Linked DNA regions of Homo sapiens: region 2 is linked to region 1. Evidence: fine-mapped expression QTL. Tissue or cell type: whole blood. Region 1 holds a variant in brackets; the other region holds the start of a gene. All regions are shown on one strand. Distances are from middle to middle.

Region 1 (8,260 bases):
GGAAGAGCTAGCACAGACTAGAGAGGTAAGGGGGGTAGGGGAGCTGCCCAAATGAAAGGAGTGAGAGGTGACCCGAATCCACAGGAGAACGGGGTGTCCAGGCAAAGAAAGCAAGAGGATGGAGAGGTGGCTAAAGCCAGGGAGACGGGGTACTTTGGGGTTGTCCAGAAAAACGGTGATGATGCAGGCCTACAAGAAGGGGAGGCGGGACGCAAGGGAGACATCCGTCGGAGAAGGCCATCCTAAGAAACGAGAGATGGCACAGGCCCCAGAAGGAGAAGGAAAAGGGAACCCAGCGAGTGAAGACGGCATGGGGTTGGGTGAGGGAGGAGAGATGCCCGGAGAGGACCCAGACACGGGGAGGATCCGCTCAGAGGACATCACGTGGTGCAGCGCCGAGAAGGAAGTGCTCCGGAAAGAGCATCCTTGGGCAGCAACACAGCAGAGAGCAAGGGGAAGAGGGAGTGGAGGAAGACGGAACCTGAAGGAGGCGGCAGGGAAGGATCTGGGCCAGCCGTAGAGGTGACCCAGGCCACAAGCTGCAGACAGAAAGCGGCACAGGCCCAGGGGAGAGAATGCAGGTCAGAGAAAGCAGGACCTGCCTGGGAAGGGGAAACAGTGGGCCAGAGGCGGCGCAGAAGCCAGTAGAGCTCAAAGTGGTCCGGACTCAGGAGAGAGACGGCAGCGTTAGAGGGCAGAGTTCCGGCGGCACAGCAAGGGCACTCGGGGGCGAGAGGAGGGCAGCGCAAAGTGACAATGGCCAGGGCCAGGCAGATAGACCAGACTGAGCTATGGGAGCTGGCTCAGGTTCAGGAGAGGGCAGGGCAGGGAAGGAGACAAAGTCCAGGACCGGCTGGAGGGGCTCAACATCGGAAGAGGGGAAGTCGAGGGAGGGATGGTAAGGAGGACTGCATGGGTCAGCACAGGCTGCCAAAGCCAGGGCCAGTTAAAGCGACTCCAATGCGGAAGAGAGTAGGTCGAAGGGGAATGGTAAGGAGGCCTGGGGCAGAGTGGTCAGCACAGAGTGGCTAAGCCCAGGGCCAGTTGAAGCGGCTCCAATTCGGAAGTGGGGTGGTCGAAGGGGAATGGTAAGGGGGACTGGGACGGGGTGTCAGCATAGGGTGGCAAAGCCCAGGGCCAGGAACGACGGGGCGGATCGAGACTGGCAACGGGGAAGGAGGATGCCCCAGGTGGCGCAGCAGAGGGTGGACCTGGCCCCGGGAGACGCCGGGCGGGGGGCGCTGACCTGGTGCAGGGCGCTGATACCGTCGGCGTTGGTGGAGTCCAGCACGGCGCGGGCGGGCGGCGGCGCGGCGGGGTCGAGCTCGGCGCCGGGGCCAGGGTCGGCGGCGCGCAGCATCAGACGCGCCTCGTCCAGGTCGCCGCCCGCACAGGCCGCCAGGAACTCGGCGGCGCGCTCGAAGCGGACGGTGCGGGCGCGGCGCTCTCCGGGGCCAGGCTCGGCGCCCGCCCGCGCCCCCCACTGCCGCAGCTGCTCCCGTCGCCGCTCCCGGGCAGCCGCCGCCGCCGCCCCCGGGCCAGCCGCCGGGCCATCCTCTCCGGACATCGCACCGCCCGCCCGCCCAGCGAGCGAGCGAGCGCCGAGCCCCAACCGCCGCCACCACCCGCCCGCCCGCCCGCCCCGGGGGCCGCCGGGAACTGCCGCTGGCCCCCCACCGCCCCAAGGATCTCCCGGTCCCCGCCCGGCGTGCTGACGTCACGGCGCTGCCCCAGGGTGTGCTGGGCAGGTCGCGGGGAGCGCTGGGAAATGGAGTCCATTAGCAGAAGTGGCCCTTGGCCACTTCCAGGAGTCGCTGTGCCCCGATGCACACTGGGAAGTCCGCAGCTCCGAGGCGCCCAGTGGAAATCGCCAGATGAGGGCCTCCTCCGGGGAATGCTGGGAAATGGAGTCTACAGGCCGGAGGGGTGCCCCACGGCATACTAGGAAGTGTGTAGCACCGGGTAAAGGGGATGAATAGCAGACTGCCCCGGGGCAGTTAGGAATTCGACTGGACAGCCGCGTGGGAGGGAGTGCGGGGAGAGGCAGAGTTGTTTTGTTATTGTTGTTTTATTTTGTTTTCTTTGTTTTGAGACGGAGTCTCGCTCTGTCGCCACGCTGGAGTTCAGTGGCGCGATATCGGCTCGCTGCAACCTCCGCTTCCCAGGTTCAAGCAATTCTGGCTCAGTCCCCAGAGTAGCTGGGATAACAGGCGCGCGCCACCCCGCCCTGCTAATTTTTATATTTTTAGTAGAGACGGGATTTCACCATGTTGGCCATGATGGTCTTGATCTCTTGACCTCATGATCCGCCCGCCTCGGCCTGTAATCCTGCTGGGATGACGAGCGTAAGCCACCATGCCCAGCTGGGTTTTATTTATTTTGGTTTTTTTCCTGACCCCTTAACTAGAAATAAGCTCCACGAGAGCGGGATCTTTTGTCTTCTGTGCACTACTTGTCCTCGGTTCTTAGAACAGAACCTGAGAGAACCTGATCGCAAATATTTTTGGAATGAATGAATGAATGGGTTCACCAGGGCACCATGGGAAACTGAGTCCGCAACCTAGAAGCCATGAAAGACAGTCCACTTCCAAGCTTCCCTGGGTGACCTCGCAGGGCATGCTGGGAAATGAAATTTGCGGTGAAAAGGTCAGGACCACGATCCTAGGGCACGCTGGGAAATGTAGCCCACAGGGCCACACCCCTAAAAGCACAGTGGGGTGCAAGGCAGGGCCCCAAGGCATTTAGGGCTCGGGGCAAGAGAAATCCACACTCCACTCCCTAATGGTAATCCCTGAGCCACACCGAGTAAAGGAACCCAAGACACAGTGTCCACAGGGACAGGGCTCTCAGAGCTTTCACTGGCCCGCGCTTCTCCTGCGCCCACCCGGACCTCCTGGGAACCGCCCAGGCCCTCGCGCGCTCTCAAGGCATGCTGGGATTGGTGGTCCCGGGCAAGGAGTTCCAGCAGGTGGGGGGCGAATCACCTTTCAGCGGGCCCAAGCGATGAGCACACCTTGATCTTCACCTTACGGATCCCGCGCCCAACTCAAGATTGGGAAGGTGGCTGGCACTTTGTGACAGGAAGAGTCCCATAAAAATCATACAGAAAAGGGCCAAAATCGGGACAGAGACTACAGACTGTTTCCCAAGCGCTGTGGGAGTTTCCCACCCACTCTGAAGTCCTTGGGTTTGCGCGGAGACGTAAACTGCGCATCCCACGAGGCCTGTTTCTTTCCCTCTCTCTTTCTCTTTTGTTGTTGTTGTTGCTGCTGCTGTTACGAAAATTTTTGTGGTTTTATTGTATCATGAGGCATTGAAACATCCGGCGACTCAATGTCTAGGCGGTGAGGCAGCCGCTTTCTCCTTCACTTTCTTTGGGTTAAGTAGAGCAACTTGTCAGTAGTTTTGTTTTTT[T/TTG]TTGTTGTTGTTGTTGTTTTTGAGACGGAGGCTTGCTCTGTCGCCCAGGCTGGAGTGCAGTGGCGCGATGTCGGCTCACTGCAAGCTCTGCCTCCCGGGTTCAAGCGATTCTCCTGCCTCAGCCTCCTGAGTAGCTGGGACTACAGGCGTGCTCCACCACGCCCGGCTAATTTTTGTTTTTTAGTAGAGACGGGGTTTCACCATGTTGGCCAGGCTGGTCTCGAATTCCTGACCTCGTGATCCGACTGCCTCGGCCTCCCAAAATGCTGGGATTACAGGCGTGAGCCGCCGCGACCGGCCAGATTTTTTTTTTTTTTAAAGGACAACCTTTTGCATTACTTAAGTCTTTCCAAGGCATGCGCTGGTACAACACAAACTTTTCCCATTACATGCAGCTAGTCTAGTGTCCAGACGTCATGCACAACACCTCCGTGGCATCAGCGCACTGCGCCCACTCCCACTGCGACCCTGCTCATTTGTGCATCATATCTGGAGGAGTGGCAATAGTTCTGGAAAGAGGAGGGAAGAGGAGGCAGCGTGAGGGCCCGGTGGAGAGGAGGTCAGCTGAAGTTGTGCAGAGCAAGCCTGCATATCATTGGTGCAAACCCAAGCATCATTGCATCGCTGATGTTTTGTTTTGTTTGGTTTTGTTTTGTTTTTGAGACGGAGTCTCACTGTGTCGCCCAGGCTGGAGTGCAGTGATGTGATCTCGGCTCACTGCAACCTCCGCCTCCCAGGTTCAAGTGATTCTCCTACCTCAGCCTCCCAAGTAGCTGGGATTACAGGCGTGCTCCACGCCTGGCTAATTTTTGTATTTTTAGTAGAGACAAGGTTTCACCATGTTGGCCAGGCTGGTCTCGATCTCCTGACCTCAAGTGATCCACCCGCCTCAGCTTCCCAAAGTGCTGGGATTACAGGCATGAGCCACCACACCCAGCTGATGTTCTTTAGTAGGAATATCTGGTGGAACCCCAAGATGGGGTCTTCATCCGCCACGAAGCCTGTTTCTATAGAAAGGGATAGTTCTGGTGGCTCTTAGGTGTGGTCCCTGAACCCCACACTTTCCACATACTTACACACCAACCTCCTTCCCCCAGGAAAACAAGAAGTCGGTCTTCAGGGTGTTACCGTGTAGCTCTGGTTCTGTATGTATTCTGTGCCTTTATGTATAATTGTGTGTATTTGCAATCATGTCTGTGGCTGGATGTATGTTGTTTATGAGTTTGTGTTTATGGTTTGTTTTTGTTTGTTTGTTTGTTTGTTTTGAGATGGAGTTTCACTCTTGTCATCGCCCAGGCTGGATTGCACTGGCGCAATCAAAAAAGAGTAAAATAACAGAAATCAGAATGGGCTTATAATACTCTTACCCCTCTCCACACAGGACAGAAGAGTCAATTTTATACTTTTGTGGATGTTCTAACTTCACCTGCTTATCTGAACCATCTTTATGGTGCAGACTAATATCTATTTTTCTGCTGTTACAGAAGAAGTGGGAACATTTTCTTCTTATCTTTCTGAGGTTATTTACACCAGTGAGGAGGGCCTGCAGTTCCAAGGTTAAGCACCAACATTCCACTGTTACCATTGAGAGCAAAGAGCAGACCCTAGAAGTGAAAACAAAACCTTTACCACAGGAAGACAAGAGCAAAAGATGATGTTCTTGAGTGGCATATGAAGATGCTCACAGCCAACATCACATGCCTATCAGATATTTTATGTACATCATCTCATCAACTCCAGGAGGCAGAGACTAAGAGACTAGCCCCAGTCACAGAGCTAGAAATTGGCCAAGACAAGGTTCAATCTGAGGACTGTCAAATCCAGAACTGGAATTTCTTTTTTTTTTTTTTTTTTTTGAGATGGAGTCTCGCTCTGTCACCCAGGCTGGAGTGCAGCGGCATGATCTCAGCTCACTGCAACCTCCACCTCTTGGGTTCAAGCGATTCTCTTGGGACTACAGGTGCACGCCACCACGCCTGGCTAATTCTTGTATTTTTAGTAGAGACGGGGTTTCACCATGTTGGCCAGGATAGTCTCAAACTCCTGACCTCATGATCTGCCCGCCTTGGCCTCCCAAAGTGCTGGGATTACAGGCATGAGCCACTGCACCTGGCCTTAGAAGCCTCAGTTCCTGATGGCAGTTGGGATCTGCCTTTCCTTCCCTGGACTGCCTACCTCTTGTCTTTTAGGTTACATATGAGAAAACAAACCTCCAATTCACCAAAACTATTGTTATTTGGGGAGCTGTCTCTTACTATCAGCCAAACATAACTCCTCAATGACACTGTTAGTTTAGCACTGCCATTATAATCAGGAGGGATCTGGGTCCAGCTGCGGGAACATGAAGAGGCACTAGTGGGATGACCACAGCCAGCCCCTGTTGATTCACCAGGAGACTGCAGATGCATGAGCAAGTCCAGCCAAGATCAGCCAGACAAGAACTCCCAGCGGAGCCCAGCCCAATTTGCCAACTCTCAAACTATAATTTTTTTTTTTTTTTTTGAGACGGAGTCTCGCTCTGTCTCCCAGGCTGGAGTGCAGTGGCGCGATCTCCCCTCACTGCAAGTTCCACCTCCTGGGTTCACGCCATTCTCCTGCCTCAGCCTCCCGAGTAGCTGGGACTACAGACGCCTGCCACCACACCTGGCTAATTTTTTTGTATTTTTAGTAGAGATGGGGTTTCACTGTGTTAGCCAGGATGGTCTCAATCTCCTGACCTCATGATCCGCCCGCCTTGGCCTCCCAAAGTGCTGGGATTACAGGCATGAGCCACCGCGCCCAGCCCTCAAACCATAAGTTAAATAGATGACTGTTGACTCAAGCCACTAATATTTGGGGTAACTTTTTTCTTTTTTCTTTGCTTTTTTTTTTTGAGACCAAGTCCCACTCTGTCATCCAGGCTGGAATGCAGTGGCATGACCTCGGCTCACTGCAACCTCCACCTCTGAGGGTCAAGTGATTCTCCTGCCTCAGCCTCCTAAGTAACTGGAATTACAGGCACCAGCCACCATGCCTGGCTACTTTTTGTGTGTTTTCAGTAGAGATGGGGTTTCACTATGCTGACCAGGCTGGTCTTGAACTCCTGGCCTCAAGTGATCCACCCGCCTCAGCCTCCCAAAGTGCTGGGATTACAGGCAGGGGTGAGCCACTGCGCCCACCTGGGGTAACTTTTTATGCCACAAAAGCAAACTGATGCAAGGCATTCCAAGAGGCCTTTGAGCCTCTTGCAAGTCAAGCTGATTGCAAGACACTCTGCCTTTGATAAAATGTAGTGGACAGAGAAGCAGTGGTTTCAGTGGCAGAGATGACAAATTGTTGCCCAATATTCGTTGTCCCCTTCTTTCTCAACAAAATGGAACCTCTGATTATGCTGGGTTTAGCATAGCCATCTAGAATAATGGTTACATATCCCAGTGTCGGGCCTCCGAGCCCAAGCTAAGCCATCATATCCCCTGTGGGCCTGCACATATACATGAAGATGGCCTGAAGCAACTGAAGATCCAAAAAAGAAGCGAAAATAGTCTTACCTGATGACATTCTACCATTGTGATTTGTTCCCGCCCCACCCTAACTGATACGATATATTCTGCCTGGTCCTTAAGAAGGTACTTTGTAATATTCTCCCCCGCCTTTAAGAAGGTACTTTGTAATATTCTCCCTGCCCTTGAGAATGTACTTTGTACGCCCATCCCAAACCTATAAGAACTAATGATAATCCCACCTTTGCTGACTCTGTTTTCGGACTCAGCCCACCTGCACCCAGGTGAAATAAATAGCCTTTTTGCTCACACAAAGCCTGTTTGGTGGTCTCTTCACACGGACGTGCGTGACATTTGGTGCCGTGACTAGGATCAGGGGACCTCCCTTGGGAGATAAATCCCCTGTCCTCCTGCTCTTTGCACCGTGAGAAGGATCCACCTATGACCTCGGGTCCTCAGACCAACCAGTCCAAGGAATATTTCACCAATTTTAAATTGGGTAAGCAGTCTCTTTTTACTCTCTTCTACAACCTCTCTCACTATCCCTCAACCTCTTTCTCCTTTGAATCTTGGCGCCACCCTTCAGTCTCTCCCTTCTCTTAATTTCAGTTCCTTTCCTTTTCTGGTAGAGACAGAGGAGACGTGTTTTATACGTGAACCCAAAACCCCAGCGCTGGTCACGGACTCGGGAAGACAGTCTTCCCTTGGTGTTTAATCACTGCGGGGACGCCTGCTTGATTATTCACCCACGTTTCAGAGGTGTCTGATCACCACGGGGACGCTTGCCTTGATCCTTCACCCTTAGTGGCAAGCACCACTTTCCTGGGGGGCAAGCACCCCCCACCCCTTCTCTCCATGTCTCTACTCTCTCTTTTCTCTGGGCTTGCCTCCTTCACTATAGGCAACCTTCCACCGTCCGACCCTCCTTCTCCCTTAGCCTGTGTTCTCAAGAACTTAAAACCTCTTCAACTCACACCTGACCTAAAACCTAAACACCTTATTTTCTTCTGCAATGCTGCTTAACCCCAATACAAACTCGACAATGGTTCTAAATAGCCAGAAAACGGCAATTTTGATTTTTCCATCCTACAAGATCTAGATAATTCTTGTCGTAAAATGGGCCAAAGGTCTGAGGTACCTGATATCCAGGCATTCTTTTACACATTGGTCCCTCCCTAGTCTCTGTTCCTAATGCGACTTGTCCCAAATCCTCCTTCTTTCCCTCCTGCCTGTCCCCTCAGTCTCAACCCCAAGCGTCACTGAGTCTTTTCAATCTTCCTTTTCTACCGACCCATCTGACCTCTCCCCTCTTCCCCAGGCTGCTCCTCCTCAGGTCGCTCCCCACCAGGCTGAATCAGGCTCCAATT
Region 2 (8,000 bases), 30 kb after region 1:
AGGACTCTGGAGTCCAGTTCTGGAGGAGGGGGGATGGGGAGAAGAAAAGAGGGAAGGAAAGTCAGGGTGGCTGTAAAGGAGGAAGAGGGTCACACGCATCAGATATACATTCAGAACTGGTGTGGGGACCCCCCACCCCCACTGTCTGCACACCCAGGAGTGCAAACCCCCAGACCTTTCTCTATTTATATGCCCAGAGCTCCTGCTCTCCTCCATTAGGACCCAGCAGTGCAGGGGGTCCCAACCTCTGTCTTCATTCAGTGACCCCAGCGCTCTCTCCCCAGCTCGCCCCCTGCCCACCGCCCCACCGCCCCCCCGCCCCCGGCCCGACCTTGGAGACCCTGACTCCCAGCGCTCGCCTCCTCTGCAATCCTAAATTCCAAGCCCCAACCTTTGAATGTATATGGGGGAGAAAATAACAGACAAGGTTGGAGGCGAAGATAAGGGGGGATGGGGTGGTGCTTCTCCGCAAACATCCAACCCTTCTGTAAAGATTCCTCCAGACTGGGGAAGAAGGCTTGGGTGTCGGTCCCTTTAAGAAGGAAGGGAAAGGGTTAAAGCCACTGCGGGGCCATTTCCCTTCCCGGCCCCGAGAGGGCGCAGGAGCTCTCAGGGGCTTAAAGGACCGGGCCTGGGGGCGGGTTATGGGGGCGGAGGGAGGGAAGGGTGGTCTTGGAGGTTGGGGCCCGAGGATATCGGGGGTCCCCCCGGGCCCCCGACATCGGTCTCGGGAAGCGAAGCAGCCGCGGTTACCTGGCTCTGCCACCGGCTCCGGCTCTTCGGGGGCTGGGGAGGGGAGGGAGGAGCAGCGAGGGTTTGGGGAGCGAGGGGGGAGCGGCCACGCCCGGGCGCGGGAGGGGAGAGAGGGAAGAGACGTGAGAGGCTGTTAGAGGACCGGGAGCCGAGGCCGTCGGGAGCCCCATCCCGCCCCCTCCTCCCGGGCCCAGCGTCCCCGCCCCCCCACCCCCCAGCTCCAGACCTGCGGAGTCCGGGACCTCACCTTCCTCCTCCTCCTCCGCAGCCTCCTCTGGAGATGGGGGCACAGAAGAGAAGGCGTTAGGAGCTGGGGGAGGGATGGGGGCGGTGGCCAGAGACCAGGGTTCCAGTCTCTGCTGGACGGGGGTCCCTCTGGCCTCGGCTGCGATGGGCACGTTCCCCCTGGCGGTGCAGGGATGGCGCGAGGAGACGCTCCAGACCCGGAGAGGGCGGGCGAGGGCCCGAGGGCTGAGCCGCCCCTTCCCCGCCAAAGTGCCACACTCCTCGCCTCCCCTCCCAAGAGCTCCTGGGCGTGTCCCCATCCCATAGGGCCGGCCCACTCCCTACTCACCTTCCGGCTGCTCCCTGCGGACGGGTGTGGGGAGAGAGGAGGGAGGGGAGAGTTAGACCTGGGGTGGGAGAGCCTCTCCACCACTGCACGCCCCAACCCCTCCCAGTGCAGCACTCACTCCTCATATTCCTGCTCCTCGGTGTCCGACATCCTGGTGCGGCCTAAGGACCAGAGAGAAGAGGCCCAGTGGGGTGGGGCCCCAAGGAGGGGGCGACCTAGACTCCTGGGTGTGAGGGAGGAGGGGCTGGGGGCCTGGACTCCTGGGTCTGGACTCCTGGGTGTGAGAGAGGAGGAGCTGGGGTCTGGACTCCTGGGTGTGAGAGAGGAGGAGCTGGGGCCTGGACTCCTGGGTCTGAGGAAGGAGGGGCTGGGGGCCTGGACTCCTGGGTCTGAGGGAGGAGGGGCTGGGGTCTGGACTCCTGGGTCTGAGGGAGGAGGAGCTGGGGCCTGGACTCCTGGGTCTGAGGAAGGAGGGGCTGGGGCCTGGACTTCTGGGTCTGAGGGAGGAGGGACTGGGGTCCTGAACTCCTGGATCTGAGGGAGGAGGGGCTGGGGGCCGGATTCCTGGGTCTGAGGGAGGAGGGGCTGGGGGGTGTGTGGGAGGGTGGGTGTGGACTCCTGAGACTGAGATGGGTTGTCCTGGACACCTGGGTCTGAGGGAGGAGGGGCTGGGGTCTGGACTCCTGGATCTGAGGGAGGAGGGGCCAGGGGCCTGGACGCCTGGGTCTGAGGGAGGAGGGGCCGCGGGCCTGGACGCCTGGGTCTGAGGGAGGAGGGTCTGGGGGCCTGGCCTCCTGGGTCTGAGGGAGGAGGAGCTGGGGCCTGGACTCCTGGATCTAAGGGAGGAGAGGCTGGGAGTCTAGACTCCTGAGTCTGAGGGAGGAGCGGGCTGGGGGCCTGTACTCCTGCGTCTGAGGGAGGAGGGCTCAGGTCTGGACTCTTGGGTCTGAGGGAGGGGGCCGGCTGTCCTAAAGCATGCATGAGGACAGACCTTGGTAGGTGTGGTCCTGGCACAGCCAGGAGGCTGCAGACCCTGCCCCCTCAGCACAGCTGTCCTCTTTTGTCTTATGACAAGTCCATGGGAACCTGATCCAGTTGGGATTAGGAAGAGGCATTTGAGAAGGGACAGTGGCCTGAAGACAATAGCTGCCCCACCCCCAGGAGCTATTTTGGGGGGATGTCATAGATGGTGAAACCGAGGACATTTCCTAAGAAGGGATTTGAGGAAGGGGGGCTTCTGGGAGAATTAGTCACCCGCATCCCCTCTCCCACTCGCCCCACCCCACTGGCTGGTTTCCTCCCCACCTGTCTCCCCTTTCACCTTCCCATACATCACGTAGGGGGCAGGGGCATAAAGGGCACCTTCTGTCCGTAGACCTCACCCTGACCCCTACATTCTTAGACCTCAAAGTCTTTGAGACACCCTAGGCCACAGGGTGCCTAGCCCCAAATCCCAATACCCACAGATTCTGAGACCCCGATTTATGATGCCCGTGTTTCTGAGGCCAGCAAGTCCTCACAGCTCTGGATTCTGAAATCCCAGTTCTTGATAGTCCAGATATGGGCCGGGACATCCTAAGACCACCCCCAGGTCTTGAGACCTCCTAAAATCTGAAACCTCAAGAATATGAGACCCCCAAAATCTTGATACCCAAACTCGGAGGCCCAGTTCATGATACCCCAGATAATGGCACTCTAAGTTTTCATGCTTTCTATCATAATGTCTCAGATTCCGAGCCCTCCACTACCAAAACCCCAATTTCTTCTGAGACCCCCCCAATTCCTGATACCCTCAGAGTCTGAGGCCCCAAATCCTGACACCCAGATTGTTTGACCTCCAAGTCCAGATATCCCTGACTGCTGAGATTTCCCCCAGATTCCCAGAACCCCAAGATCCTAGGAGGTTTTATTCTGGGACATCCAAGTCCTGGCAGCCCCGGGTTAGGATTTGTGTAACCCACAAATCCTAGTATTTTCCCCTCTATCCTGAGTCCCCCTAAAGTCTGAGCCTCTCAAGTTCCCAGACCTCCAGTTGTATGCCCCACCTACCTCTGCACCATTTCTCCACACCCGACATCTTCCCCACCTGCCTCCTGCCCCCTCCCCCAAGGACATGGTTTTTGAAGACCACAGGGCTCCGCAGAGCCCCTTACCTAGGCTGTGTCTGAGATGCTGTGAATCTTGAGGCTGAGCCTTGCTGAGGGCACTGAAGCTCCGGGGAGTTTATAGCTGGAGGCTCGGGCCCGCCCCGAGGGGAGAGGGAGGGGGAGAGAATTCCTTTGCTCAAACACAAGCCTGGGAGTTCAGAGACAGCCCTGCTGCCCCTGGCTCCACACTCAGAGTCCAGAAGCCTCCGTGGGCCCCTCCCCAACCCCATGCCAACCCCATCTGCATGGCCCAGGAGCCCCGCCCCTGCTCCCACCCCACACCCCAGGCTCCCGTGGTGCTCCAACTACCTCCCTTATAGCTCCCTGTGCTTTGACGTCCCCATGCCCGGCACACAGTAGGTCCTTGGAGGACCTACTAATGACACATGGGCTATAAGGAATGTTTCCTGTTTTCTTCTCTCTGTTCCCTCTTTCTATCTAGGTCTCTTTCTGGACCCCCATTTCTGTTGTCTCTGTGGCTCTCCATCTGTGTGTCTCTGTGTGTCTGTCTCTACTTCTTAGTCTCCTCCTCTGTCTCTGTCCATCTTTTTGTCTCCTCCTCCCACCCCCACCCCTTTGTCTGCCGCCAGGATTCCATCCTGGTGACAACAGGCACTAAAGCCGGGAAGCAGGTGTGGGGAGGGGGAGGGGGAGGGTGGGGTGTCAATTAGGGTGAAACCTACCCTCCCTCCCCACCTCCATCTAACGCTGATCTTTTTTGGTATCCCCCTCCCGCTTCCCAGCCAAGCCATGACCTTGAGTTCTAGGTTCAAGCCAGCCCTGGAGAGCAGGCTTCCTCACCCTCCCCGCCTCTCCGTACCTCTGTCTCTGGTGGTCTCGGTCTTTGTGTTTCTGTGCATTTCTCGGGGCCCCTTGCTGGGTCTGTCTTGGGCTCTCTCTGCATCTGTCGCTTTCTGAGCCCCTCAGTGTGTTTCTCGGCATGTGTCTCCGGGTGGTTTTGTCTCTGCATTTCTGTGGGTGTCTCTGCATGTCTGCCCCTCTCAGCGTTTGTGTCTGTGGGGGCTCACAGTCTCTCTGTGCATTTCTGTCCACCTATGACCCCATTTCTGTCTCTTTTTGGCTCTGGGTCTCTGTGTCTGTGTTCACGTCTCTATCTTTCTAGTTCTCTCCATGTCTCTCTTAGTGCCCGCAGTTCCCCCTCTGTGGCTCTCCATTTCCATCTCTTATAGGGTCTCCATGTCTCTGCACCTTGCTGTGAGTATATCTCTGTCTCTCTTTTCTCCTTTCTTTGCACTTCCTTCTATGCATCTTGTGGTATTTTCTCCCTCTCTCTTTGGGTCTTTGCCTGGCTCCTACTCTCTCTACTCCCAACTCAGTCTCTCTGTTGTCGGTCATGTCTCTCTGCCTGTCTGTTTCTCTGTGTCTCTCTCTCTTTGACCTTTAGTCTTGGCATCTCTGTGCACTCCACATGGGCCAGAGGAGCTGTGACAATAGAGATCAGAAGACTGATGGAATGAACTGTTTGTGGCAATAAGATACCAAATTATAAACAAGACCTAAGGCCATGCCAGGCAAGGGTTAAGCCACGCATCCCTACACTTATATAATCGACTATGTTCCAACTGCCACAAGGCTTTTCCTTTTTCTAGCAGCTAAACAAGCACCGGCCTCAAGATAAGCAATATTACAACCATTGCAGCCATCCATTGCCAGATGCTGACTAGCTGAACCCCCTGTTCCACAAGGCATAACTACAGCATTAGTTGAACAAGAGACTGATTTCAGTAACTTTCTCCTGATAAGATGCCGCAGACCACGGACTGGTTCTGGCTGTTGACAGAGGCTGTGCACTGAGTGTCTTCATATCCCTGCTTCGTGTTTCGATACGAATGCATTCAATGGAATGCACTTAAATGTTAAGCCTCCACCACCAAGTGAAGGTGGGATGCATGTAAAATGTGTTTGCGGCCAGTCGCGGTGGCTCACGCCTGTAATCCCAGCACTTTGGGAGGCCAAGGAGGGCGGATCACGAGGTCAGGAAATCGAGACCAGCCTGGCCAACATGGTGAAACCCCGTCTCTACGAAAAACACAAAAATTAGCTGGGCGTGGTGGTGCATGCCTGTAATCCCAGCTACTGGAGAGGCTGAGGCAGGAGAATGGCTTGAACCCAGGACGCAGAGGTTGCAGTGAGCTGAGATCGTGCCACTGCACTCCAGCCTGGGTGACAGAGCAAGACTCCGTCTCAAAAAAAAAAAAAAATGAGTGTTTGCTTGTCACACATGCGTGTGTCCATGTGTCCACCTGTCCATGAATATTCATAGCTCCTTCTATAACCAGTTGAATACGTGCACTTAGCTAACCCACTCAGCATAAATTCCTGCCTTGCCCTTCCCTCCCTTAAAGTGCCTGCTTTTGTTTTTTGGCAAGAAGCCATGCTTCTGGTCTTCAGGTTGTGATCCGCTTCTTAAGAAACAAAGCTCCGCTCTCCAAATTCATGAACCCCGGGATTCTTTTCAATAACACAGCCAAGAGTGCTTCACATGGGAGACCCATCTGGTCCCCAACCTGCTGTGTGGCTTTGGGGGAGCCCCACCTGCAGTCTTCCCATCTGTCTCCTGCCTAAGCCCTGGGTAATAGACATGGAGTCACTTTCAGCTCAGAGAGAAGCTTTATTCCTCAGGGCCCTCCTCAGGGCAGGGGCAGTAGGCAGGAAGGCTCAGCTCTCAAACTTTTTCTTGCGGCCCTCCATTCCACTCAGTGCATCGATGTTCTTGCGCCAGTCTCCCACCTCCCGGTTTTCCTGGAGGATGGCGATGAGTCAGAGGTTAGGGTCTCTTCTTGGTCTCCAGTCTCTCAAGAATCCCTGTCTTCCCTCCAGCCTGTGGGGCCACTCTACCCTGGATGCCTAAGTATCTAGTTCTGGAGCACTTCCTGTCTTTTCAAGATAATCCCTGCCAATTTTCCCCATGCACTTCCTGTCTCCCTCATGCACTTCCTGTCCCCCTCATGCACTTCCTGTCTTTCCCCAGCACTTCCTGTCTCCCTCATGTACTTTCTGTCTTTCCCCATCCACTTCCTGTCTCCCTCATGCACTTCCTGTCTTTCCCCTCCACTTCCTGTCTCCTTCCTGCACTTCCTATCTTTCCCCTCCACTTCCTGTCTGCCTTATGCCCTTCCTGTCTCCTTCCTTCTCTTCTTATTATAGTAGTCCCTCCTTTTCTGCAATTTTACTTTGTGTGGTTTCAGTTACCTGAGGTAAACCATGGCCCAAAAATATTAAATGGAAAATTCCAGAAATAAACAATTCATAAGTTTGATGGATTCTCAGGTCAATAGTAGCCTAACGCCAGGTCATAATGCCTATGTCATCCACCTCACCTCATCTCAGCACATAGGCACTGTCATTTTACATCACAAGGAAAAGAAGGGTGATTACAGTGCTATAAGATATTTTGAGAAAGAGACCACATTCATGAGTTTTATTACAATCTGTTATAATTGTTCTATTTTATTATTATTATTATTTGAGACAGGGTCTGGCTGCCTCATCCAAGCTGGAGTGCAGTCGTGCAATCTCGGCTCACTGCAGCCTCAACTTCCTGGGCTCAAGCCATCCTCTCACCTCAGACTCCTGAGGAGCTGGGACCACAGGTGTGTGCCACCATGCCCAGCTAACTTTTGTTCTGTTTTGTTTTGTTTTGAGATGGAGTCTCCCAGTGTTGCCTGGGCTGGAGTGCAGTGGTGAGATCTCGGCTCACTGCAACCTCTGCCTCCCGGGTTCAAGCAATTCTCCTGCCTCAGCTTCACAAGTAGCTGGGATTACAGGCACCCACGACCACGCCCAGCAAATGTTTGTATTTTTACTACAGGTGGGGTTTCACTGTGTTGGCCAGGCTGGTCTCAAACTCCTGACCTCATGATCCGCCCGCCTTGGCCTCCCAAAGCGCTGGGATTACAGGCACGAGCCACCACACCCGGTAACTTTGGTATTTTTTATAGAGACATGGTCTCGCCATGTTGCCCAGGCTGGTCTCGAACTCCAGAGCTCAAGCAATCTGCCTGCCTTAGCATCCCAAAGTGTTGAGATTACAGGCATGAGCCACCACGCCCAACCTTCTTTTGTTGTTATTTATTGTTAATCTCTTACTGTGTCTAATTTAGAAATGAAACTTTATCATAGGTATGTATGTGTGTATAGGAAAAAAAATTACATATAGGGTTCAGTACAATCCATGGTTTCAGGCATCCACTCCTATCTTTCCTGTCTTCTTCTTTAAGATAGGGTCTCACTGTATTGCCCAGGCTGGAGTGCAGTGGTGCAGTCATAGCTCACTGCACCCTCGATCTCATGGGCTCAAGCGATTTTCCTGCCTCAGCCTCCTGAGAAGCTGCATGCCACCACCGTGACTGGCTAATTTAAAAAAGAAATTTGTAGAAATTAAAACAACAACATGGTGGTGTGCACCTGTAGTCCCAGCTACTCGGGAGGCTGAGGCATGAGAATCACTTGATCCTGGGAGGCAGAGGTTGCAGTGAGCCGAGATGGTGTCACTGCACTCCAGC

What was found. PIP is the estimated chance that this variant, and not a neighbour inherited with it, causes the effect.
Region 2: TNNT1 starts here. The variant in region 1 is fine-mapped to the expression of TNNT1 in whole blood (INTERVAL, PIP above 0.99).

What each region holds. Positions count from the first base shown.
Region 1 is chr19:55,115,977-55,124,236 of GRCh38, forward strand. It overlaps PPP1R12C (protein phosphatase 1 regulatory subunit 12C), which reads right to left and starts at 1,661. Exons shown (of 22, transcript NM_017607.4): 1 at 1,247-1,661. The coding sequence starts at 1,567. MIR7975 (microRNA 7975) reads right to left here and starts at 7,316; the gene lies at 7,249-7,316. RefSeq lists enhancers at 57-892, 247-296, 697-776, 1,737-2,016, 4,955-5,044 and silencers at 1,207-1,306, 1,327-1,406, 1,597-1,676. The variant T/TTG (reference allele first, on the strand shown) is at 3,415.
Region 2 is chr19:55,145,681-55,153,680 of GRCh38, forward strand. TNNT1 (troponin T1, slow skeletal type) reads right to left here and starts at 3,526. Exons shown (of 14, transcript NM_003283.6): 1 at 3,481-3,526; 2 at 1,446-1,488; 3 at 1,328-1,341; 4 at 1,001-1,027; 5 at 754-786. The coding sequence starts at 1,477. TNNI3 (troponin I3, cardiac type) reads right to left here. Exons shown (of 8, transcript NM_000363.5): 8 at 6,087-6,237. The coding sequence ends at 6,154.